Regions from separate parts of the Homo sapiens genome. Here regions 1 and 2 are each linked to region 3. The links come from fine-mapping of genetic effects on gene expression. A gene starts in region 3. Each other region holds a variant in brackets. All regions are shown on one strand. Distances are from middle to middle.

The links. PIP is the estimated chance that this variant, and not a neighbour inherited with it, causes the effect.
Region 1: its variant is fine-mapped to the expression of TBC1D30 in whole blood (TOPMed, PIP 0.98).
Region 2: its variant is fine-mapped to the expression of TBC1D30 in tibial nerve (GTEx, PIP 0.98). The same link has a PIP of 0.9 or more in stomach and visceral fat.

Annotation. Positions count from the first base shown.
Region 1 is chr12:64,772,964-64,781,064 of GRCh38, forward strand. It overlaps a transcript of TBC1D30 not described here. Among named protein-coding and RNA genes, the nearest start is that of GNS, 18 kb to the left of the region's middle. RefSeq lists silencers at 7,608-7,887, 7,968-8,067. The variant C/T (reference allele first, on the strand shown) is at 4,257.
Region 2 is chr12:64,873,176-64,881,276 of GRCh38, forward strand. TBC1D30 (TBC1 domain family member 30) reads left to right here. Exons shown (of 12, transcript NM_015279.2): 12 at 1,826-7,858. The coding sequence ends at 2,613. Among named protein-coding and RNA genes, the nearest start is that of LINC02389, 6.5 kb to the right of the region's middle. The variant A/G (reference allele first, on the strand shown) is at 3,481.
Region 3 is chr12:64,821,186-64,829,286 of GRCh38, forward strand. TBC1D30 (TBC1 domain family member 30) reads left to right here and starts at 3,462. Exons shown (of 12, transcript NM_015279.2): 1 at 3,462-3,848; 2 at 6,650-6,711; 3 at 7,259-7,324. The coding sequence starts at 3,695. RefSeq lists a silencer at 3,282-3,521 and enhancers at 4,160-4,667, 6,345-6,394.

The DNA of each region.
Region 1 (8,101 bases), 48 kb before region 3:
ATACCCACAATTCCTGTAAGCATCATGACTTGAATATCATTCTGCATTAATAGTTTACTCACTGTCTACTGTGTATTAATATGCATTTCCTAAATTCTGTCTAAGGTTTGATGGCTTTAAAAAGTACTAAAATTGGGGCTGCATCTTTGCTGTTTGCAAAACTCAGCCATTCTACCCTGTGGGCTTTGGAGAGTCCAAACCAACTGAGGGTGGAAGGGATCCCCCAGCACAGCACAGCTGTTCTACCAAAACATGGCCAGACTGCTTCTTTAAGTGAGTCGCTGATCTGTTCCTCCTCACTGGGCAGGACCTCTCAACTGGGGCCTCCAGCCACCCCTGCCAGTGTTCTCTGGCCAACAGAGATTTGAAAACTTCCTAGGACAAAGTTCCTAAAGGGCAGGGTGAGCTACCATCTTTGCTATTTGGGTGACCTAGCCATTCCAGCCTCTAGGTGTTGAAGAGCCCAAGCCAACTGGGAGAGGAAGTATATCCCAGCACAGCATGGCTGCTCTACAAAAGCATGGCCAGACTGCTTCTTTAAGTGGGTCCCTGATCCCCTTCCTTTTGACTGGGTGAGATCTCCCAACTGGGGTCTTCAGCCACCTTCTACAGGTGTGTTTGAGCCAGCAACAGGTGTGCACTTCCCTGGGATGGAGCTCTCAGAGGAAGGGGTGGGCTGCCCTCTTTGCTGTTTTACAGCCTTCACTGGTGATACTTCCAGGTACTGGAAAACCCAAGGTGACTGGGACCAGGCTGCCAGCAAACCACAGCAGCCCTACAGAAAAGTGATCAAGCTGTTAAAACAAAAACAAAAACCATCCAAAGGTCAGCAACCTCAAAGATTGAAAATAGATAATCCCATAAAGATGAGAAAGAATCAGCACAAGAATGCTGAAAACTCAAAAAGGCAAAATGCCCTCTTTCCTCCAAATGACTGCATCACCTCTCCAGCAAGGGTTTGGAACCAGGCCAAGGCTGTGATGGCTGAAATGACAGAAGTAGAATTCAGAATATGGATAGGAACAAACTTCACTGAATTAAAGGAGGATATTGTAACCCAATGGAAGGAAGCTAAAAATCATGATAAAACATCATAGGAGCTGACAGACAAAATAGCCAGAGTGGAGAAGAATGTAACCAACCTGACAGAGCTGAAAAGCACACTGTAAGAATTTCATAATGCAATCACAAGTATTAATAGCATAATCAAGCAGAGAAAAGAATCTCAGAGCTTGAAGAATGTCTTTCTGAAATAAGATAGGCAGCCAAGAATAGAGAAGAAAGAATGAAAAGGAATGAACAAAACGTCTGAGAAATATGAGATTATGTAAAGAGACTGAATCTTTGACTGATTGGTGTACCTGAAAGAGATGGGGCAAATGGAACCAATTTGGAAAACACATTTCAGGATATCATCCCTGAGAACTTCCCCAACCTAGCTAGACAGGCCAACATTCAAATTCAGGAAATGCAGAGAACCCCAGTAAGATACTCCATGAGAAGGTCATCCCCAAGACACATAATTAACACATTCCCTAAGGTCAAAATGAAAGAAAAAATGTTAAGGGGACCTAGAGAGAAAAGCCAGGTCACTTACAAAGGGAAGCCCAGCAGACTAACAACAGACCTCTCAGAGGAAAACCTATAAGCCAGAAGAGATTGGGGGCCAACACTCAGAATTCTTAAAGAAAATAATTTTCAACCCAGAATTTCATATCTGGCCAAACTAAGCTTCATAAACGAAGGAGAAATAAGATCCTTTTCAGACAAGCAAATGCTGAGGGAATTCATTACTACCAGACCTGCCTTACAAGAGCTCCTGAAGGAAGCACTAAATATGGAAAGAAGGCCGGGCATGGTGGCTCATGTCTGTAATCCCAGCACTTTGGGAGGCCAAGGTGGGCACATTACTTGAGGCCAGGAGTTTGAGACCAGTCTGGGCAACATGGTGAATCCCCGTCTCTACTAAAAATACAAAAATTAGCTGGGTGTCATGTTGCACACCTGTAATCCCAACTACCTGGGAGGCTGAGGCATGAGAATTGGTTGAACCCAGGAGGCAGAGGTTGCAGTGAGCCGAGATTGCACCACTGCATTCCAGCCTGGGTGACAGAGTGAGACTGTGTCTCAAAAAAAAAAAAATATATATATATAGATATAGATATAGATATATATGGAAGGAAAAGACTGTTACTAGCCACTGCAAAAACACACTGTAGTACACAAAGCAGTGACACTATAAAACAACTACATAAACCAGCCTGCAAAATAACCAGTTAACAACATCATGATGACAGGATCAAATGTATACATATCAATAATAACCTTAAATGTAAATGGGCTAAATGCCCAATTAAAAGACACAGAATGGCAAGTTGGATAAAGAACCATGACCTAGTGGTATGCTGTCTTCAAGAGACCCATCTCATGTGCAATGACACACATAGGCTCAAAATAAAGGGATGGAGGAAAATTTACAAAGCAAATAGAAAACAGAAAAAAGCAGGGGTTGCAATCCTAGTTTCTAACAAAACAAACTTTAAACCAACAAAGATAAAAAAAGACAAAGGGGGCATTATATAATGGTAAAGGGTTCAATTCAACAAGAAGACCTAACTATTCTAAATGTATATGCACCCAACATAGGAATACCCAGATTCATAAAGCATGTTCTTAGAGACCTTCAAAGAGACTTAGAGTCCCACACAATAATAGTGAGAGACTTTAACCACCTGCTGACAATATTAGACAGATCATCAAGAAAGAAAATTAACAAAGATATTCAGGACCTGAACTCAGCACTGGATCAAATGGACCTGATAGATATCTACAGAACTCTCCACATGAAAACAACAGAATATACATTCTTCTCATTGCCACGTGGCACTTACTGTAAAATCAGTGACATAATCAGAAGTAAAACACCTCTCAGCAAATGCAAAAGACCTGAAATCATAACAATATCTCAGACAACAGTGCAATCAAATTAGAACTCAAGATTAGGAAATTCATTCAAAACTGTACAATTACATGGAAATTGAATAACCTGCTCCTGAATGACTTTTGAGTAAATAAATGAAATTAAGGCAGAACTCAAGAAGCTCTTCGAAACTAATGAGAACAAAGATATGACATACCAGAATCTCTGGGACACAGCTAAGGCAGTGTTAAGAGGGAAATTTATAGCACTAAACACCCTCATCAGATCTCAAGTTAACAACCTAATATCACAACTAAAACAAATAGAGAAGCAAGAGCAAACAAATCCCAAAGCTAGCAGAAGTCAATAAATAACCAAAATCAGAGGTGAACAAAGGAGATAGTCATGAAAAATCATTCAAAAGATGAATCCAGGAGCTAGTTTTTTTTGAAAAAATTAATAAGATAGATAGACCACTAGGTAGACTAACGAAGAAAACAGAGAAGATTCAAATAAACACAGTGAAAAATGGTAAGGGGAATATTACCACTGAACACACAGAAATACAAGCAACCATCATAGAATAGTATGAATACATCTATGCACATAAACTAGAAAATCTAAAAGAAATGGATAAATTTCTGGACACATACACCCTTTTAAGACTGAGCCAGGAAGAAATTCAGTCCCTGAACAGACCAATAATGAGTTCTGAAATTGAGGCAGTAATAAATAGCCTAACAACCAAAAAAAGCCCAGGACCAGATGGATTCACAGCTGAATTCTAGCAGATGTACAAAAAAGAGCTGATATCATTCCCACTGAAACTATTTCAAAAAGTTGAAAAGAAGGGACTCCTCCCTAACTCATTCTATGAGGCCAGCATCATCCTGAAACAAAACCTGGCAGAGATACAACAACTACAAAAAAACTTCAGGCCAAGATCCTTGGTGAACATTGATGCAAAAATCCTCAACAAAATACTGGCAAACTGAATCCAGCAGCACATCAAAAAACTCATTCACCAGGACCAAGTGGGCTTCATCCCTGGGATGCAAGGTTAATTGAACATACACAAATCGATAAATGTGATTCATCACATAAACAGAACTAAAGGCAAAACCACACGATTATCTCAACAGATGCAGAAAAAGCTTTCGATAAAATTCAACATCCATTCATGTTAAAAACTCTCAATAAACTAGGTATTGAAGTAACATACCTCAAAAAAGTAAGAACCATATATGACAAACCCGCAGCTAATATCCTACTGAAAGGGCAAAAGCTGGAAGCATTCCCCTTGAAAACAGGCACAATACAAGGATGCCCTCTCCCA[C/T]TGCTCCTATTCAACATAGTATTGGAAGTTCTGGCCAGGGCAATCAGGCAAGAGAAAGAAATAAAGGGCATTCAAATAGGAAGAGAGGAAGTCAAACAATCCATGTTTGCAGATGATATGGTCCTATATCTAGAAAACTCCATCATCTCAGCCCAAAAGCTTCTTAAGCTGATAAACAACTTCAGCAAAGTCTCAGGATACAAAATCAATGTGCAAAAATAACTAGCATTCCTAAACACCAACAACAGTCATGCCAAGGGCCAAATCAGGAATGAACTCCCATTCACAATTGCCACAAAAAAATACAATACCCAGTAATACAGCTAACTAGGGAGGTAAAAGATCTCTACAAGGAAAACTACAAACCACTGCTCAAAGAAATCAGAGATGACACAAACAAATGGAAAAACATTCCATGCTCATGGATAGGAAGAATCAATATCATTAAATTGGCCATGCTGCCCAAAGCAATTTATAGATTCAATGCTTTTCCCATTAAACTACCATTGACATTCTCCACAGAACTAGAAAAAACTATTTTAAAATTCATATGGAACCAAAAAGGAGTCTTGCTCTGTTGCCCAGGCCGGAGTGCAGTGGTGCAATCTCAGCTCCCTGCAACCTCTGCCTACCAGGTTCAAGTGATTCTCATGCCTCATCCTTTCAAGTTGCTGGGATTACAGGTGTGTGCCATCACATCTGGCTAATTTTTGTATTTTTTTAGTAGAGATGGGGTTTCGCCATGTTGGCCAGGCTGTTCTCAAACTCCTGCTCTCAAGAGATCCACCTGCCTTGGCCTCCTGAAGTGCTGGTATTACAGGCGTGAGCCACTGCACCCAGCCATCAGTGGTTCTTTCTTATATCCAGAGCTTCAGGGAACTTGTGTGGGGCCTGCCAGTTTCCTGGTGGCAGTAGTGTAGGGTGAGAAAAGCGGCTGTCCTTTGCCAATACCGCTTCTAGGATTATATTTACTAAAGTTAACTTTTCTTAGGAAAGTAGGTAATTGGTTGTTTTTTTCTCTGGTTTTCATGGTATTCATTCAATTAGTTAATTAAACAAATATTTATTGAGCAGTTACAATGTGCCAGGGATTGTTCTAAGTGATGGGCATATATCAATGAACAAAATAGACAAAATTCCTGCGCTCGGAAGCTTACATTTTAGTGGCAAAAGACAGATAACAAAATAAATCAGTAGATTATATACTGTAGTATGTGGGAAGAGGGTATTATGGGAAAAAAAAGAACAAGGAAGAGAACTAAGGAAAACCTGGGGGATGGGGAGCTGCAATGTCAAATAGGGTGGTTATGGAGTGATTCACAGAGAAGCCTTTTTTTTTTTTTTTTTTTTTTTTTAAGATGGAGTCTCACTCAGTCACCCAGGCTGGAATGCAGTGGCGTGATCTCGGCTCACTGCAACCTCCGCCTCCTGGGTTCATGTGATTCTCAGGCATGGGCCACCACACCCAGCTAATTTTTGTATTTTTAGTAGTGACGAGGTTTCACCATGTTGGCCAGGATGGTCTCGATCTCTTGACTTCATGATCCGTCCACCTCGGCCTCCCAAAGTGCTGGGATTACAGGTGTGAGCCATCGCGCCCGGCTCACAGAGAAGACATTTAAGCAGAGACGAGACTTGGTGAGAGCAGAGTCATGCCAATATCTAGGGGAAGATCATTCCATAAGTACAATGATCTTAAGCGTGCTTTCCTTGTTAGTTTTTAGTTTGCCATTTTCCTCTCTTTAGATTTGGTAATGATGGGGAATGGGAAATAATTTTGAAGTTCTTATTAACTTAGAAATGTTGAATGTCAATAACCTATTGTTTTCTTGGTCTCTTTTTTCCCTTCAGCTCACTTTGAGTTTCTTTACCTGTAATTCCTGATGGAGATTCCCTAAATGAGAATAGTGCTGAAGACTAACAGTTAATCACATCTCTTCTTAGGGGGAAGAGATAAAAAGGGCTGGGAAGCCAATTAAAAAAATAGGTCCAATTTCAGTGTTTACTCCTCTGAAAGTCCTGCTCATTGCAAAGTTTGGCATACGAAGGAGGACTTGGAACTCGTTGAATGCCAGGGACAACAGGGAAAAAGACCTCAAAAAACAAAACAGCAATATAATAATGAATTCTACTCTCATTTCATACATTTAAACATTAAATGGTAACAATAGTCATTAATATAGTTATAAAACCATAAAATAATATTTCCAGTATAATTTAAAATTCCGAATACCTAAGCGAAAAGTACAACTTCTGCTTGTCTCATATTAACTCCAGTTTCAAAAAGGGCCCTTTTATTGCAGTGCTGGTGTCAAGGTACACCAGATTTCTACCGGCAGGGTCAGGCTCTATTATGAAAGTGCCTTGGAAGACAAAACTGTGCTGAACAAACACGAAACACCAGTGTTGTTCACCAGGTGTGTTGTTGCCCCTTTTGGAAGTGTGGTCAAGTATTTAATAGCATTTGACTAATATATATTCATCCATAATGAAAGCCAGACACTTTATGAAAAGTTCACTTTATTCTTTGTGAATGGACACGTTATTTAGCCTCTTCGTGCCTCAGCTCCCTCAGCTGAAAAGTGAGAATATAACGACACTTAACTGCTTTATAGGGTTAAAGTGAGGATTAAGTGGGATAATTCATGCAAATCTCTAAGAACAGTGCCTGACATACAAAAAGCGCTAAACATGTTGCCAATTATTAACTTCACAAAAATATCTACAGTGGAGCGGCAGTTCCGAGTTCTATTGAGGTCTAGTGTAAGATACATCTCTCACAGTATCTTGTAAATTTTTGATTCTACCATCATCAAAACTAGCTCAATTAATGTATCAGTTCGGTCATCTCAAGAACATTTATTAAACCCTCACTCTGGTTACATCTTGTATCAGGGAATTAGTTGATTTTAATCCAGTGCTTTGGTTTTCACTGGAGGAAAAAAGTTCACAGCGTTATTAAGTCCCAGATATTTGCCAGGTGTTCAGAGTTTTAGAAAGCTTATTGTCAGAGACTAAACTAAGAAGGCTTTTGAAGGCGCTCAGATCAGGTGGGAAAGTGAGAAGGGCTGGTATTGTGTTCCGAGTATGTCAAGAAGGAGCTCCTGGCCTGGGCCTATTGATGGGCGTTTAGAACCCTCCTGGGCATTATTTCTAGCTGGCGGCTGAATAAGAGGCAAGAGTCACCCTCTTTTTGAGTTAAATCACGTGCTTAATTAAAAGTGAAGGTGGCGGCGGCCTCAGCGCCCTCCCCCTCCGTGCTGCTGGCTTCTTCCCAACGGTGTTCTGGCCACGTCCTGCGCCTTCTCGCGCACGGGAGAGCGCTCTGGGTAGAGGCCGGGCCCGGGCAGCAGGTGGCCCCAGGTAGCTCAGTGGCGTGGCAGTCTCCTTCTCGCCCGGTCCGGAGCGGAGGGGAGCGGCTCAGGTGCCGGCTCGGGGGAGGCCCGGGCACCTCGGGGATCCAGAGCCCGCTGGCGCCGCGCCCGGGAGGGCACCACCGGCGAGGACGAAGCCGCGCCTCCTCCCGGAACTGGCCGGCGCCGCGAGGCGGGAGGAGCAGCGGGAGCCGGGCAGCCGCGCGCCGGGGACCATGGACGTCCTTCCCACCGGCGGGGGCCGCCCGGGGCTCCGGACGGAGCTGGAATTCCGCGGCGGCGGTGGCGAGGCGAGGCTGGAGAGTCAGGAGGAAGAAACGATTCCTGCAGCTCCCCCAGCCCCGCGCCTCCGGGGAGCGGCGGAGCGGCCGCGGCGCTCCCGGGACACGTGGGACGGCGATGAGGACACGGAGCCCGGCGAGGCGTGCGGCGGCCGCACAAGCCGCACGGCGTCCCTGGTGAGCGGGCTGC
Region 2 (8,101 bases), 52 kb after region 3:
CTTCCGAAGTTAGGGAGGATGGGAAATAGAGGCCTTTCAGATCTGATAGCTTTTGTTTTCATGGAGTAATTGGGGGAAAGTTGTTTGGTGGGGATTGGGAGTAAATGAGAGGTTAAAGAAAGTAATGAAGATTTAGTTAGGTCACTGAAGGGAGCGAGAAAGGGAAATGAAAAGATTGTTTGGCATTGAGGACCCAGTGAAATGGGAGGTCATGAATTTAAAGGGCTCAGTTTCAGAAAAGAGAATGTAGATCATGGACCCTAGGTTGGGGCTTTACTAGCAATGTGTGACAAAGAGACAGGGATGCCTGTGAGGGAGTGATCTAAGCGGTCAGCCATGCATCTGGCAGGGTAGGGGTGTCAGTGAGCCGAAGACACATGAGGGGTTGTGAGGAGCCTGAGGAACAAGGAGCCAGAAGTCTCTGTGGTTCATTACCACATATAGTTAGACTGAGAGCCTGAGAGCTAGAAGAGCCAAAATGAGGAGTATTAGAATTAAATATTTTCACATAAGGTAGAGCTGGGTGATAATGTTTAGGATGGAACTGGAGAGGTTGAGGAACTATGAGAATGTAATGGAGGGCCAATCACAGTGACAGTCAAATAATTGGGGAGGTGGCAGGAATGTGGTGAAGAGGAGACAGTTATCAACATTTTTAGTTGATACTGGGGTATGACCAGTGGTAAATGACAACAGTAGAGAAGGGTGGAAATTAGTTCAGCCAGATGACATGGACATCAAGGAAGAAGGAAACTCGCACACAGAGGGAGAGGCCTTCTCCCTACAATTTCTGTCTGCAGCTGCCATCCTGGGACCATGTGTGTTGAATGCTGCATTGGAAATAGGAGTCTGGTCATAGCCGCAGGTGGTCAATGATAATGCCATCGACAGTGCCTTCTAGGAGAACAAAGCTTTTTTGTTCGTTTGTTTTGAGAAGGAGTCTCACTGTATTGCCCAGGCTGGAATGCAGTGGCGCAATGTCAGCTCACTGCAACCTTCACCTTCCGGGTTCAAGCAATCTCCTGCCTCAGCCTCCCAAGTAGCTGGGACTACAGGCATGCACCATCACACCTGGCTAATTTTTGTATTTTTAGTAGAGACAGGGTTTCACCATGTTGGCCAGGCTGGTCTCGAACTCCTGGCCTCAAGTGATCCTCCTGCCTTGGCCTCCCAAAATGCTGGAATTACAGGCATGAACCACGGCACCTAGCTGAGGACAAAGCTTTTGGTGCTTTTCAGTTTTCAATTGGCTTTCGAAGTCCATTGAGGACACAGGAGTGGTTTTTCACCTGTAGGGCTAGATGCTGGATAGCTGTGATTTCACTGCATTCTCACTACCTTTTTATCACTTCTGTCATTCTGCTGGATCTCACTTCATAATATGCAGTGTGTTCTTTTCCTACCTCTCAGAGGCTGACAGATGATAATCCATATGGTCATAGTGTTTGTTGTATTATTTTTTTTAAATCTGCAAAGATTTTTCTAAGTACAGTAACTCAGAGGTTGCTACTCAGAGCCAAGAGCTCTCTGTAAAAAAAAAAATTAGGGAGTCCAGGCTCTGATTAGGAATGAGGGGTCAGATGTTCCTTTTTGTATCATCACCCTGTGGTCCCTTCCTCTTTAAAGAAGAGCGCATTGGTATTCCAGGCTCTTCGGTTGAATTCAGTTTCTGCTGTCTTCAGTCACATGACTCTGCCCCTCCCTGGGGAACACATGGGAAGGGATGTGGTAGACGGGGCTGGGAGGACCTCTAAGTGATTTCTGTTCCAAGATGGATGTGTTTCTTTGTGGTACACTTCATACTACCTTTCAACATTTCTTTCAGACAAAGGGCCAGTGACCAGCATTCTCCCGTCTCAGGTAAACAGTTCTCCAGTTATAAACCACCTTCTTTTAGGAAAGAAGATGAAAATGACTAACAGAGCTGCCAAGAATGCTGTCATCCACATCCCTGGTCACACAGGAGGGAAAATATCTCCTGTCCCCTACGAAGACCTTAAGACGAAGCTCAACTCCCCGTGGCGAACTCACATCCGAGTCCACAAAAAGAACATGCCAAGGACCAAGAGTCATCCGGGCTGTGGGGACACCGTAGGGCTGATAGATGAGCAGAACGAGGCCAGCAAGACCAATGGGCTGGGGGCAGCAGAGGCATTCCCCTCTGGTTGTACAGCGACAGCTGGGAGAGAAGGCAGCAGCCCTGAAGGCAGTACCAGGAGGACGATCGAGGGGCAGTCTCCGGAGCCGGTGTTCGGAGATGCTGATGTGGATGTGTCTGCAGTTCAGGCGAAGTTGGGAGCCCTGGAACTGAACCAGAGGGATGCTGCAGCTGAAACTGAGCTCAGGGTGCACCCACCCTGCCAGCGGCACTGCCCAGAGCCGCCGAGTGCACCCGAAGAAAACAAAGCCACCAGCAAAGCTCCCCAAGGCAGCAACTCAAAAACCCCCATCTTTAGCCCTTTTCCCAGCGTCAAGCCCCTGCGGAAATCTGCTACTGCCAGGAACTTGGGATTATATGGCCCTACAGAAAGAACCCCAACTGTGCACTTTCCTCAAATGAGTAGGAGCTTCAGCAAACCCGGCGGTGGAAACAGTGGCACTAAAAAACGATGATGTCTCCCCGAAACTTTGTATCTGGACTCACCTTTTCACAGTAGTATAAGGGTTGCAGCTGAATGGCTCTAAAAGAGTTTTATTTGTCCAGTGAAAATGAATAGGTTCAGGGATGAGCAACAGCCCATAAAAAATGGGAACTGGAAGTTTTATAATAGGAGTTAGAACAGGGCTGTTTTCCCAGCTACTTGCTAACTGACGAAGTGGATTCTTGTGGCAAAATAAATATTGTGGTTTTATAGTGTGAAGTTTTCCCAATTTTTCATTGTGAGCTGTTTAAAAAAGACTATATCTAGATTGTTAACTCTCGTCCATCCTTCTGTTCTGGGGGCCTTCAGAGTCCCTGTGACAGCACCCCCAAACCTTCCAGTTCTCTGGGTGTTACTAATACTCAAGCATGCACATACCAGCTTGCTAGGACAGAAACTGTAAAAAGAAAGTAAGTTTCTTCGTTACAAAAAACTTCCTGATTTTCCTTTTCATGCTTTACGGAGGGGATTGTGTCGTGTGAGATTTCCCACAGTACCAGTTTCAAATTTTTTTTTTATTCTTATGCTAAATCATAGGAGAAAAATCTAGATAGCCTTTCTTTAACTGTCTATTTCTACCTGCAAAATGAAGAAAACCTTTCATCTGTTGAAATTTCAATCGATAACCCAGCTGAAGATCTTATGCACAGGACACACTTGGCATATGCTTTACGCAGTTGCTCCGGACAGCTTGCTCGCGCCACTGAGCTTTTCCTGAGGTTTGTGTTCGCCTCTCAAGGAGAGCTTTGATCCTCAGTGGTACGGATGACTTGATGGGCTCCATGCGGAGCCTGGCCTGCATCCCCCACCACACAGCTCACTCACCCACCAGCTCTAG[A/G]CTGCAGACGCACAAGGCCTCTGCTCAGAAGCCAGAACACAGCACCTGTGACTCTGTTACTTGAATTTTGTGCTTTTTGATTGGAGTCCTTTGTTGAGTACTTTGTTAATTGAACACTGCCTTTCTCTGGAGAAGGCCCCAGTGCTTTCTAGCTCCCTCTCACTCCTGCCCTTTCTAGCTCTCTCTCACCCAGCGGGTCAGGGATAGCACCTCTTGTCTCCACTATGCAGATGGGAACTCTGAGCCACACAGAGGTGAAGTAGCACTTCAGTTACTCAAGGTCAGTACTCTCGGTATTCCAAGTGACTTAGCCACATTTCCTTCAGTGCAATAGGTGGGTTTAATGCTCTTTGTACACAGATGTATTGGCTACATAGCGTGTAAAAACCAAGACTGGGAAGCCATTCACTAAAATCCCTCCTGACTCAAAGGACCTGTCTCCAGATGGTACAGAGTCCCTTGATGGCATTTTACAAAACCAGCTCTGACTTCCTTATCCTGAACAGGGAGTTTATTTTAAAAATGCTTCATGCACCTGTTATTTGGCTGAACAGAAGGCTCACTCCTCAATCCCCTTCTCCTCGCCATCATTAGAGGAATAGACTCAGCCTTCATGTTTGTCTCTGGAAGACGATTGGCGATACTTGCAGGAATATTGTTGATGCAGCCAATATTAATTTGAGCTAATGGATTGTTAATTCTGAAACGAAAACTGTAACTGTAGAGCAGGCTTTTACTATGAGAGGTACTACTTTTTATAATAGAGAATGTGGTTGTGTGGGCTTTTTTTGAACAGAAAACACAACAATGACCTATACCGTGAGAAAAGCCATTTTATCTTCTTCGTGGTATTTTTACCCCCAAAGGAACTGAAGATGGAAAATATGACTAATAAGTTATTGCAGTTTTGGTCTTGAATTCTGTGCCATCTGAAGTTAGCATCCAGCTTCTTAAAAAGCAGCCACGCCTACAGCCTGTTTTTTGGGAAGGCTGTAGGTGGAGAGATGGGCTTATTTTGCATACCACCCTCAGGGCCCAGAGACCCACTGCATTTTCCAAAGTTAAGCAAATGACACCATTTTCTTCCATCAGCTAAACTTTACAGATAATAGTGTTTCCACCTCATATCCTTTTCTTTGCCCCTTCTCAAATGAGTCAGAATAGTCATGTTCCCCTTGAGGGATGTCTGACTTGAATGGAGAATTGTTCTTTCCTCTCTTGAATCAGCTCACTAGCTCCCTGATGGTCTGGGTTCAAGGAAATGGTTAATGAGGTAGAGGCCACTTATACAAGTCCTTGGGATTGTACCATTGCTGTCCACAAACTTAGTATCAACAACACATGCTGTGCCCTGTGAACACTCTCCTCTCACCTATTTCCAGGGTTGGTCTTCCTGAGAAGGGGATGGATGAGGTAACACACAGTTTGGGATACGTATCTGTTGAATGAATGAATAAGTGAAAGGATAATAGTCCTCTGAGGTAAAAATGGCCTTGTCAGAATTTTGAAAATCCAACAGATTCCTATTAAAGCACTCTGTGTACCAATAACATGCATGCATTGTACCAAGTAATCACAATGTGAATTGGTCAATTTATGAGCCTTGCCTACTTTAGAAAATAAAGAAACCTGCAGTAGCCTCTACCACACAGCATGTACAAAGACCAGTATGGACTTGCTATCTTCCCTATGTATTGGACACTGTATGCAAACACCAGAAGTACTTAACAAGTAGTGGTTTCTTGATTTTTAGATATGTCTGTAGCCTCTTAGCCCTTTTGCCGGGAATCAACTCATTCTGATGCCTCTGCACCTCAGTTCCTCTTACAAAAGCCTCCAGATGATCTAAATCTAGTTAGCAATGTCAGCCTGTGGACTGCAGCTGTTTGGGACATTGTATTCCTTTGTTTGTCTCTTGTTGTTCTGAAGGATTGTATTGATCACAAAGCTATATGCATAAAGATTCTCATTGTTGTAACTGTTCTGCCATTTTCTGAGTGCAAGCATGGAACACTGTTGTGACAGTCCCTTCTCCCTTCTTCCTTCTTCCTTCACCCCCAACCCCAGACCCCCCTTGGTCACATGAACCAGGGAAACAGCCCAATAAGCTCTATCTCCCCCAGTCTAATCGCTGGGTTGCAGGGTGGCCTGTGACCTGCCCAGCATTTGCAGACTCGCTGGTTCCTGAATATGAGTAAGCACAGAGTTTACCTAGAGAGTTTACCTAAAATTAACCTTTAGATCTACTATTTATTTTTGTCTTAATAAAATGAACAATAAATATAGTTTAGCTGCATGGCATTAAGGATTCTGTATGAATAGATGTATAGTTGCTGCCATCTCCCCATATAAAAACTCTCTTTACATCGTTTCTGAGCCACTTTCTTTGCTGTCTGCAGCATTTAAAATATATTATTTTTCCTAATTAGAAAAGTCACAGGTTTTAGAAAATTGGGAAAACAAAAAGAGCATAAAGAATCATCAATACTCTGATATAGATATAGATCTTTCCAGTACGTTTGTGTATGTGTGTACACGCCATTATCTACAAAAAAGTTATGTTGAACATGGTAGTTTAAGCTGTCTTTCTGGTAAATGCTCTTATACAATATGATTTTTAGTGACTAATATTCCCTAATGTGTTCATGCCAGAATTCACATAACCAGTACCTTGTCAAATAGGAGGTTTCTGATTAGATAGTAGTAGAGACAGTATCCTGTTACATGTATGTACATAGCCCGAATTATTTTCTTAGGATATGCGTATAGAAGTGGAGTTGAAGGGTCAGGAAATATGTCCATTTTTAAGATACATATATCTCCAAATTGCCATTCTTAAAGGTTGGAGTTATACAAGTAGTGAATGAGAATGCCTGCTTCTCTACATCCTGGAAGAGGCAGCAGTCTCTTTCCTTTTTTTTCCTTTCTATGACTTCTAGTGTGGAAGTGCCAACAGAAGTGTTTTAGAAGCAGTGATAATGAACACTCATAACACCCATACCTCATTCCTGACTTTTAAAAGAAGCATTAAGTAAGATGTTGAGGTTTCTGGTAGGTGCCTATTATTAGGTTAAGAAAATTCCCTTTTATTCTTTGCTTGCTAAGAGTTTTCTTCATCAACAGGTATTGAATTTCATAAAAAGAACTTTAATTGTATCTTTTGAGAAGGGAATAGTACTTGAGACTTGGTATCCTGAACTCAAAGAAATAGCCATTACTAGGTTTTGTCAAAGAATACCAGATATTTTAGAGTTGGAAGTTATGCAGTAAAAGCTTTATGTGCAAATGTTCATTGAAGTATTAAATGTACTAATGGAAACCTGAAAACAATATAAACATCTGGGAATAGGGGAGATGTTTGGATGAATTATGATTCATCCCCAGGATGGAAATGTGAAGGCCGGTGAGTATTTGGACCATTGAAGTGGGAGTTATCTGTTATCCACATCAGGCAGCTCAGAGTAAAGTCAGCAAGTCTACAGTCATAGAGCCACCAGGATACAGTGATGGATGGGAGGCCTTTGCTGGACAGTGGCTGAAGGCAGAACTGTTGGAGTGGTTCTTCCACAAAGGCAGCCAGTGCTCACCTGAATGGGGACTGGTACTGTAGGTATTGGGTCAGCTTTCATGCCGTTCCCTGCTGGCCATCTCCCAATGCTGAATGTCTGACTCAGTTCAGGCTGCTGTAACAAAGTACCATAGACTGAGGTGGCTTAAACACAGACATTTCTTTCTCACAGTTCTGGAGGCTGAGAAGTCAAAGATCAACGTGTCTGCAAATTTGGTATCTGGTGAGGAAGGGCCCTCTTCCTGGTTTGCAGATGGCTACCTTCTCACTGTGTCCTCACACAATGGAGAAAGGGAGTATGTTTTGGTCTCTTCCTCTTCTGATAAGGGCACTAACCTCATCATGAGGGTCCCATCCTCCTGGTGTCATCTAAACCTAATTACCTCCCAATGGCCCCGCCTTCAAATACCATCACGTTGAAGGTTGCTTCCTTCCTGGTCGTTTGCTCTGGTGAGACCAAATGACCTGCAAAGTGTCACTTGATTCCATTCTCTCCATCCCTTCCATCCCAGGCAATCTTTATCTAGCTACACCAACCTGTGCCCCAGGGGCTTCAAGAGTTGTTGTTGTTTTAACATTAAAAAACCAGAAAGTTCACTTGTTTCTTAGTGTTTACATCCTTGCTATAACAATTCTAGTTTTCCTTTAGGCAATGCTGATCACTGGGAAGGAGGTGGATCAATTCTCCTATGGGACCAACAGTTTTCTGGGAAGAAACTTCCTGATACCTCAGCCTAGGAATCTCCCTATCCCTGGAGAGTCCAGGAATCTATATTAAAACATGAAACAAAGCAAAAAATAAAAAAAAACCTCCTTAGTAATTGTTTTCTTTTTGAGACAGGGTCTCACTCTGTTGTCGAGGCTGGGGTGCAGTGGCACAATCTTGGCTCACTGCAGCCTCCGCCTCCCATGTTCAAGTGATTCTCCTGCCTCAGTCTCCCAAGTAGCTGGGACTACCAAGTGTGCACCACTATTCCCGGCTAATTTTTCTATTTTTAGTAGAGATGGGGTTTCATCATGTCCACCAGGCTGGTCTTGAACTCCTGGCCTCAA
Region 3 (8,101 bases):
TTACTGACTGGTAAGTGAACTCAGGGGTATTGACTGCTATTAACTGGTCAGTATATTCTCTGTGCTGCAGCAGAGTCTATATGGGAAATCAAATGACAATCCAAAGTTTGCTTGGTGAGCATGACGTCAGAGCCAAAGGGAGTTGGATGGTCTGAGTGGCATATGTCACAGCCCCAGGGGCAGGACGTCCTCCTCTCCACTCCAGAGACAGTGTTGTAGAACAGAGCTGATTGCTTGTCCTCTTGGCTTGCCTAGTGATGGAAACCGAGCATGAATAGCCTCTCTTGTTAAAATAGAACACAAAACCCTCTAAGATTTGAGCATATGAGAGGTCTGGAAGACGAGACTGTGCATGCAGTTACCAACTTGTCCTGCTGGATTTTCCCTCTCCTGCCAGTTCCCTCTCTTTGACTTCGGGTGTTCATCACCATCTTCAGCCCCAGGGTATACTGTGCCCTCTAAAAAACTGGTCAAAGGGAAGCATCAGACCTCTTCCTATGGCTCTCAGTACAACTGAGATAGGCTGCAACAGCCAATGAGTGTCTTATTAAAATTAATACAAAGCTGAAGGATACAAACATGTACCAAAACTGTAAAAAGTTGATGGTTGATGGAGGATAAATTTCTGTACCGGAGCTCGCAGCAAAAGGTTGGGAAATTTAAGCCAAGCAATTAGTCATGACCAGCTTAAACAGTGACTTCATTTTCTAAAGTGATGCCTTTTCAAAGAGTACTGCCCTTTTGAAAGCATCTTTACCTCTGCCAGGCAGCTACAACTGAATAGCTTGCATGTCCTTTATTAGCCTGCTTTACTTTTGCAGATGGCTCATCTCATTTTTAATAGATTCTTTTACAGCTCATTCTTAGGGTTGCACCATTTCTGACATTGTCCTCAAATTCTGGGAAGCGTCATAGGAATGCCTTCTTTTTCTGGCTTGTTTAGGCTATCTTTATGAAGGCATTTAAAAATATTCAATATTTTTTCAATCAATAGCAGCCATTTTTTTTTCTTTTGATACAGGGTCTTGCTCTCTCACCCAGGCTGGAGTGCAGTGGCCAATCATAGCTCACTGTAACCTTGAATTCCTGGGTTCAAGTGATCCTCCTGCCTCAGCCTCTCAAGTAGCTAGGACTACAGGCATACACTACCACACCTGGCTAAGTTATTTTATTTTTGCAGAAACAGGGTCTTGCTATTTTGCCCAGACTAGTCTTGAACTACTGGCCTCAAGTGATTGTCCCACCTTGGCCTCCCAAAGCACTGGGATTACAGACCTGAGCCACAGCACCTGACCCAGCAATTAATTGCTTTTTGTTTTTGTTTTTACTTCTGAGGCAGGGTCTCACCATCACCCAGGCTGGAGTACAGTGGTGCGATAATGGCTCATTGCAGCCTTGACCTCCCTGGCCTCAGGTGATCCTCCCACCTCAGCCTCCTGAGTAGCTGGGCCTACAGGTGTGTGCCATCATGCCCAGCTAATTTTTGTAGCTTTTTTTTTTTTTTTGTAGAGATGGGGGTTTGCCATGTTGTCCAGGCTCAGCCATTGTTTTTCAAGTTCAAATTGTTTCATCTTTGGCCAATAGGAAGGAGCCTATTTATGTGACTCTTGTGTCTTTTTGACTTGACCCCATTAATTGTGAAACATTTCCTTTCTTTTTGAGCTCATCAAAATGTTTCAGGGTCATCTTGTACTTTTTCTGTCCCAAACCTGGAATCAGTCACTCCTCAAAGGAGCCTTAGTTCCTTTGAGTGGGGAATGGTTTTTAGAGACCATAACCTGGGTGCTGTGGGTGTTCATTGCTGCTGAGTTGTCCTTACTTCTAAACCTATTCAATGAATGTATGTATTTTTTTGAAAAGAAAAAAAAATGAGTTCATACTAGTGTTTCCCATATAAATATATAATTGTAATATTTTAAAGAAAACTTAATTACTTTGGTTATACACATATTTTCTATTACACTGAAAACATCTTGGCTCCATTTGATGTTAGCATACTTATTTATTTGCTTTATCCTGTAGTGGATATAAGAATTTAAGAAATATGAATATTATTAATAACAATAATACTACTGAATGAAATGTAAGGTTTCTTTGCAGTTTTATTTGCTCTGGGAATATGTACAACTGTTGATGTACAGTCATAATATTGTGTTCTATGTCAACTTAAGAGAGAATTATTTTTTTCTGTGTTCTTATGCTATAAGTGGGATAGTCCATTAGGTTGATTTGTTTCCATTAATTTTCAATTGTTAGGGTTTTCTTTTACAATTTAAAAATAATTTATTCATTTATAGTCAGGGACTAGGTCTGTTGCTCAGGCTAGAATGCAGGGGTGCAATCATAGCTCACTGCAGCTTTGAACTCCTAGTTTCAAGACATCCTCCTGCCTTGACTTCCCAAAGTGCTAGGAATACAGGTGTGAGCCACCGTGCCCAGACTATTTTATGTATTTTCAAATTTTATTTTTATTTTTATGTCTTTTTAAGAGATGGGGTCTCGCTATGTTGCCCAAGCTGGCCTCAAACTCTTGGGGCTAAGCAATTTTCCCACCTCAGCCTGCCAAGTAGCTGGGACTATAGGCATGCTGTTCCATCATCCTGGTTTTTTAAAAATTTAATTTGTTAATATTATTAATATAGTGTTATTCCAGAGCCAAAACTACAGGAGGCACATCAAGAGAGGACTCAGTTTTCCATTCTTGTCTCCTCCACGATGTTCCTTCTCCTATACAAGTTTTCTAATTTGTTTTTGGTTTATCCATTTAGTGTTTCTTTTTATAAATATTAGCAAACACAAGTATCTTTATATCCCCCCCCCACACCCTTTCTTTCATCCATTTTAATGGTAAATAGTCTATTGGTGAATATTGCCGTTTGAGAATGACTTTTTTTTTTTTAAACCATAATGATGGGCAATAGTTCAGAACTACTGAAGTCTGGCTGGAGAGATGAGGAACATTACTTTTTAATACTGCTTGAAAAGAGAACACTTTTTTTCTGGAAGCCCATTTTTCTAAAAGAAACAATAATTTTTTTTTCCTTCATTTTCTCCGCGCCTCTCTAATCTGCCAGGAAATAATTCAACGCAATTCGGGCTGAAGCGTGTGCCTCGCCGCCTGCGGTTGGGTCATGGCCCCTTCTGAGACTGCTCGGAAGTGGGAGAGGATGCTTGCCCTTACGGGTGTTCTGCCCCTGAGACTGGCGCCCCTTGGTGCTCCCTCTGTTCCCTCCCAGATCTTGGGAGAAGCACGGACATCTCTGTTTCTGCTTTTGGTCCCCGAACGCAGTTACGCGCCCACTGGCTCCCTGTCTCTGGCGCTTCTGGGCACGGGGGAGCTGGGGCGGCCCCGCCTGCGCACGGCGGTGCCGGGATTGGGGGCGGGCACGCCGCCTCCGTCTCCCACGCGCTCGCTCGCTCGCTCGCTCCCGCCCTCCCCGCCTCGAGCGATCTCCTGCCTCAGCCTTGCAGGCTCCGCACTGCAGATGCCTGCTGGCTTCCCTGCGCTCGGCGGCTCCCGCGGTGCCCCGTAAGTCCCCGTGACCCTCCAGCACCAGCCGGCTGTGCGCTCCCTGCTCCCACGGGCCGGTCAGCCGCAGACACTCACCCAGCTCCGCGAGCTCAGCCGCTCAGCGAGTGGGGTAGCGGGGACCGAGACGGACGGTAGCCGTGCCAGAGCCCGGGGCGCTCTCGGATGCGGCAGGACAAGCTGACCGGGTCTCTGAGGCGCGGGGGGAGATGCCTGAAGCGGCAGGGCGGCGGCGTGGGCACCATCCTGAGCAATGTGCTCAAGAAGCGCAGCTGCATTTCCCGGACCGCGCCCCGGCTGCTGTGCACCCTGGAGCCGGGTGAGGACCCCAGGGCTGCAGATGGGGCGCTGTAAAGTAGCGCCGGGGCTGCCCGCGCTTCTGCCTTAGCCTGACTCCGTCTAGGCCGGGGAGCTCTGGGGAAAGTCCGCGTGCCACCTGGTGCGGGGCACCGCGTTGGCACCTGCAGGGAGCGATTGGTCTGGAAGGGTAGAGGGCAGACGGGGGCCTGGGTGGGGCAGCGGCCACCCCAGGCGCGGAGAACCCGCTGCTTCCACCCTCTCCCCGCGGACCCCCACCCTGCGGCCTGTGTGCTCGGCTTTCTCCGCGTGGCGGGGAAGTGCGGGTGGCTGCCCGGGCCCTCAGAGGCCGCACCACCTATTGTGTTCCAGGCTCGCAGGAAGCCAGACCTTGCGAGAGGTGTGTGGGGGCGGAGAGTGGCACAGGTTTGACACTGCAGGTCGGAGGAGGAAGACAGTGGCTGCAAAGGCAAAATCGGGTGTTATTTTCCCAAGAGTCCCTTCAGCGTGAGTGCCGGGGTCAGCTCGAACTGGAGCCTGTAATTTGTGAGTGCGAGTGGGGAGCAGCAGGAGATCCTTTTCATAGGTGAGGTCCAGGAACGAGCCTGGTCGTGCTAGGCAAGGCCCTTCCCACTGTCAGCCTGTGTTTACCCATCCCTGCTTCTCCAGACTGCATAACTCCGTGTCGGCTCCATCACCCGGCATCCCTCCCCGGGATTTTAAGAGCCTGGCCCTAGCGCGGGCTCCTGGGCACGGAGGTTTCTGGCAAGGAGTGGCTGCAGAGGGAGTTGGCTGTACTCTCACTGGTGCTTGGCGCTCACCTGTTCCCTGGAGTGGCACCGGCTGCGTTCCAGGCGGGTTCACGGTCCCCGGCCCCCGCCCCCCAGCGCCAGCGCCTTGGGGACCTGCTGTAGAGCCGCAGGAGAATCGAGCTGCAGAGTCCCAAAGGGTGGGATGCGGCACTGCCTTTCCCAACCTCGTGGTTTCTTTGTTGTTCTCCCCTAGGAAGTGTCTAGTTGCAGAGGCTGTAGTATTTATTCACCATCTTCCTTTACCTCTTTTTTTTTTCTTTTAAATCTCCTTCCCACGTTAAAAGTAAGTGTTTTGTATTTCTGAATCCGGAATAGCTGTGATTATCAGATGAAACATAAACCTTCTCTCTGCCCGTATTCTGTTAGAAGAAAAGAAAAGTGGGGTGAAAGTGACCTGGTTTAAGCTTTTGCATGCAGGCGGCGAATCAATTTCAGTTAAATCCTCTTGCTCATTTTTGATCATGAGAGGATAGTTGTGGTTTTGGCCAACTAACCCCTGCTGGGTTTCACTATGAGAAGGCAATCGGCATGATGCCCAGCAGGTGCCCCGGAAAAGTCAGAAGAGCATATTGGTCAGACATACAGGGAATCCTTGTAGTGTGGCAAGAATAAGTCAGCGCGGGACCGAATTTCCTGGTCTTTGTTATCAAGCAAACGTCATGATTATACGCTCCTCCATTCAGCACCTCGCGTCCGGACAGCAACCTCACTTGTTTTCAGCGTGCCTTAAAGCGTGCGCTGGGCTGGAAACACTCCCGTGGCCGTTGTTATCACCGTTCTATGTTTGGGCAGGACTTCGTTTAAACCACCTCAGAGAGAGGCGGATCCATGTGGTACTTAATATTCCTTCGGAGAAAAAAAAAACTTATCTATCCAGGCAGAGTATGGTTATGGCCCTGAAGCTTTAAAAAGAAATATCAAGGCATTGATTGGATGCCTGGGATTCTCTGCCACAGCTTACTTTGGAAACCTAGGACCCAACTCAGGAATTTACAGCGCTCTTCCAGGGTTCCAAGAACACCTGCATACTGATATGGGCTTGCAAAAATCAGATACATCTCTTTCCAGCTTCTTGACTCCGTGTATATATATATTTTTTAAAAGACCAGTCTACTTGATTACTTACTATTATTTCATAAATTCTGAAGATTGCTCCTATTCATACCAACCACTAAGAAGTGGAAGTTGTGGAGAAGTTTTTAGTACACCTAATCTACAATCAACAATCTTAGAAACAAAAATGCCATCATTTGACTTTTGAAATTTGTAAAACTTAATGTTATTGATAGTATTTGGCATTTCTTGGTCCTTGAACTTTTGGGCAATAATTCCTTTAAAAAATGGGGCCGGGTGCCGTGGCTCATGTCTGTAATCCTAGCACTTTAGGAGGCTGAGGCAGGTGGATCACTTCAGATCAGGAGTTTCAGATCAGCCTGACCAACATGACGAAACCCTGTTCTACAAAAAATACAAAAATTAGCTGTGCGTGGTAGCACGTGCCTATAATCCCAGCTATTTGGGAGGCTGAGGTGGGAGGATTGCTTAAGCCCAGGAATCCAAGGCTGCATTGTGCTATGATTGTGCCTGTGAATAGCCACTATACTTCAGCCTGGGTGATATATTGAGACTGTATCTCTTAAAAAGAAGAAAAGGAATTGAGACTGAGATAGGTTAGATAAATTGTTTCAGTCTAGGAACCAAGTCGAATGGAGGACTGTATGACTCCAAGCCTGTGGTGTCATTTTTTGTTTTTGTTTTTGCTTTTGTGGTACTCCAGGCATCTATGTAAACCACCGTCATATGTAGTAAGGCACTTTCTATTGCTGTAGGGTATTTTCCTATTTTAAGAATCAATATGCTTACCTTTTGGCAAAATTGACTAAAATTTAGTAAAGATACATACTTTAAAAAAAATTGTGATGATTCAGTAGAATCAAGCTTTTACTAGTATTTTTGATATAACTTGTTATAGTCTCCAAAAATAACATCTATTTATGTATTTTTCTTTCAGGAGTTGATACCAAGTTGAAATTCACTCTTGAGCCATCTTTAGGTCAAAATGGTTTTCAGCAGGTAACTTTGATTTTGAAAACACTCTTCTTTTGGGGTTACCAACAGGGCACATTGAGATATATTCTCAAAGTGGAAATAACGTATTCTTTGATATGAATGTGAAGATGAGTCACTTCAACAATATTTCAGTTAAAGTAGCTTTTGAGCTACAAGTGGCCTGGGTTTATATTTGCAGTGACAAATTTTGCACTTTCTATTAATGGTACATGTGTGAAAAATTTTAAAATGAATAAATTTCACACCTGTACCATAATGTCTTTTATTCTGAACCCCATAATATATATTTTGGCTTATTAACCAGAGCTTCCCAACCATTTTGTTTGTACTGCAAAGGGGTCACAGATGTGTTAAGGGTGCCCAAGGGGTGGGACGTGGCACAGTAATAGCCATGGACTGATCACTTCTGTCTGAAAGAAGCTTTGACTGTTTACCCCATTGTGCTGTGCAAATTTCAGCACATTCTATGAATGTCAAGATGGGAAAAAGATTGCAAAGTGCTTATCTAGGTCACTGTGATCACCTCCTGGGATTTCTTCTTTGTTCCTAGTGGTACGATGCTCTCAAGGCAGTTGCCAGGCTATCCACAGGAATACCAAAGGAATGGAGGAGAAAGGTAAGGAGGACTCATAGGGCTAGAATACAGAAGGATCATCACTGCCCTTCTTTAGAGCCTCTGGAATGTCAAAAAATATATTCTAGGTTTAGTTACTTGAAAACCTGTCTTGATTATTCATTCATGCAATAAATATTTATTGATTATTCTGTGCCAAGTAATGTTCTAGGTTCTAGGGATATAGCAATGGAAAAAAACAAAACAGACCAAAGTTTTTTGTCCTCATGGAGCTTACAATGAATAAAATATAAAGTATGTCAGATGGTAATAAGTGCCATGGATAAAAATAAAGTGTAGAGAGAAATAAAGAGCGTTTAGGAGAAAAGGGGTAAGGAGGTGGAATTTTAAATAGCAAGGTGACATTCGAGTAGGCCCCTGAAGGAGGTGAGAAGCCAGCCATGCAAGTACCTGGGAGGAGATACTCCAGGCAGAGGGAACAGCCAGCGCAAGCACCCTCAGCCCTCAGGCGGGAGCATCTTGCATCTGGGTTGTATTCAAGCAAAGATGGGGTGGGGCGGGGCTGGGGCACAGTGAACAAAGGGGGAAGCAATAGGTGAGGGGGTCATAGAGGTAATGTGGTGGGTTGAGGGGTGGCAGATCGTGGAGAACCTGGTGGGCTATCATAGGTCTTGGGCTTTTGCTCAGTGTGAGCTAGGAAGCACTGGGAAGTTTTGAGCAGGGGAGTGACATGATCTGACTTTTATTATGAACGGGCTACTCTGGGTACTGACTTGAGAATATGAGAGACAAGGGCTGAAGTAGGGAGACCAGTAGGAG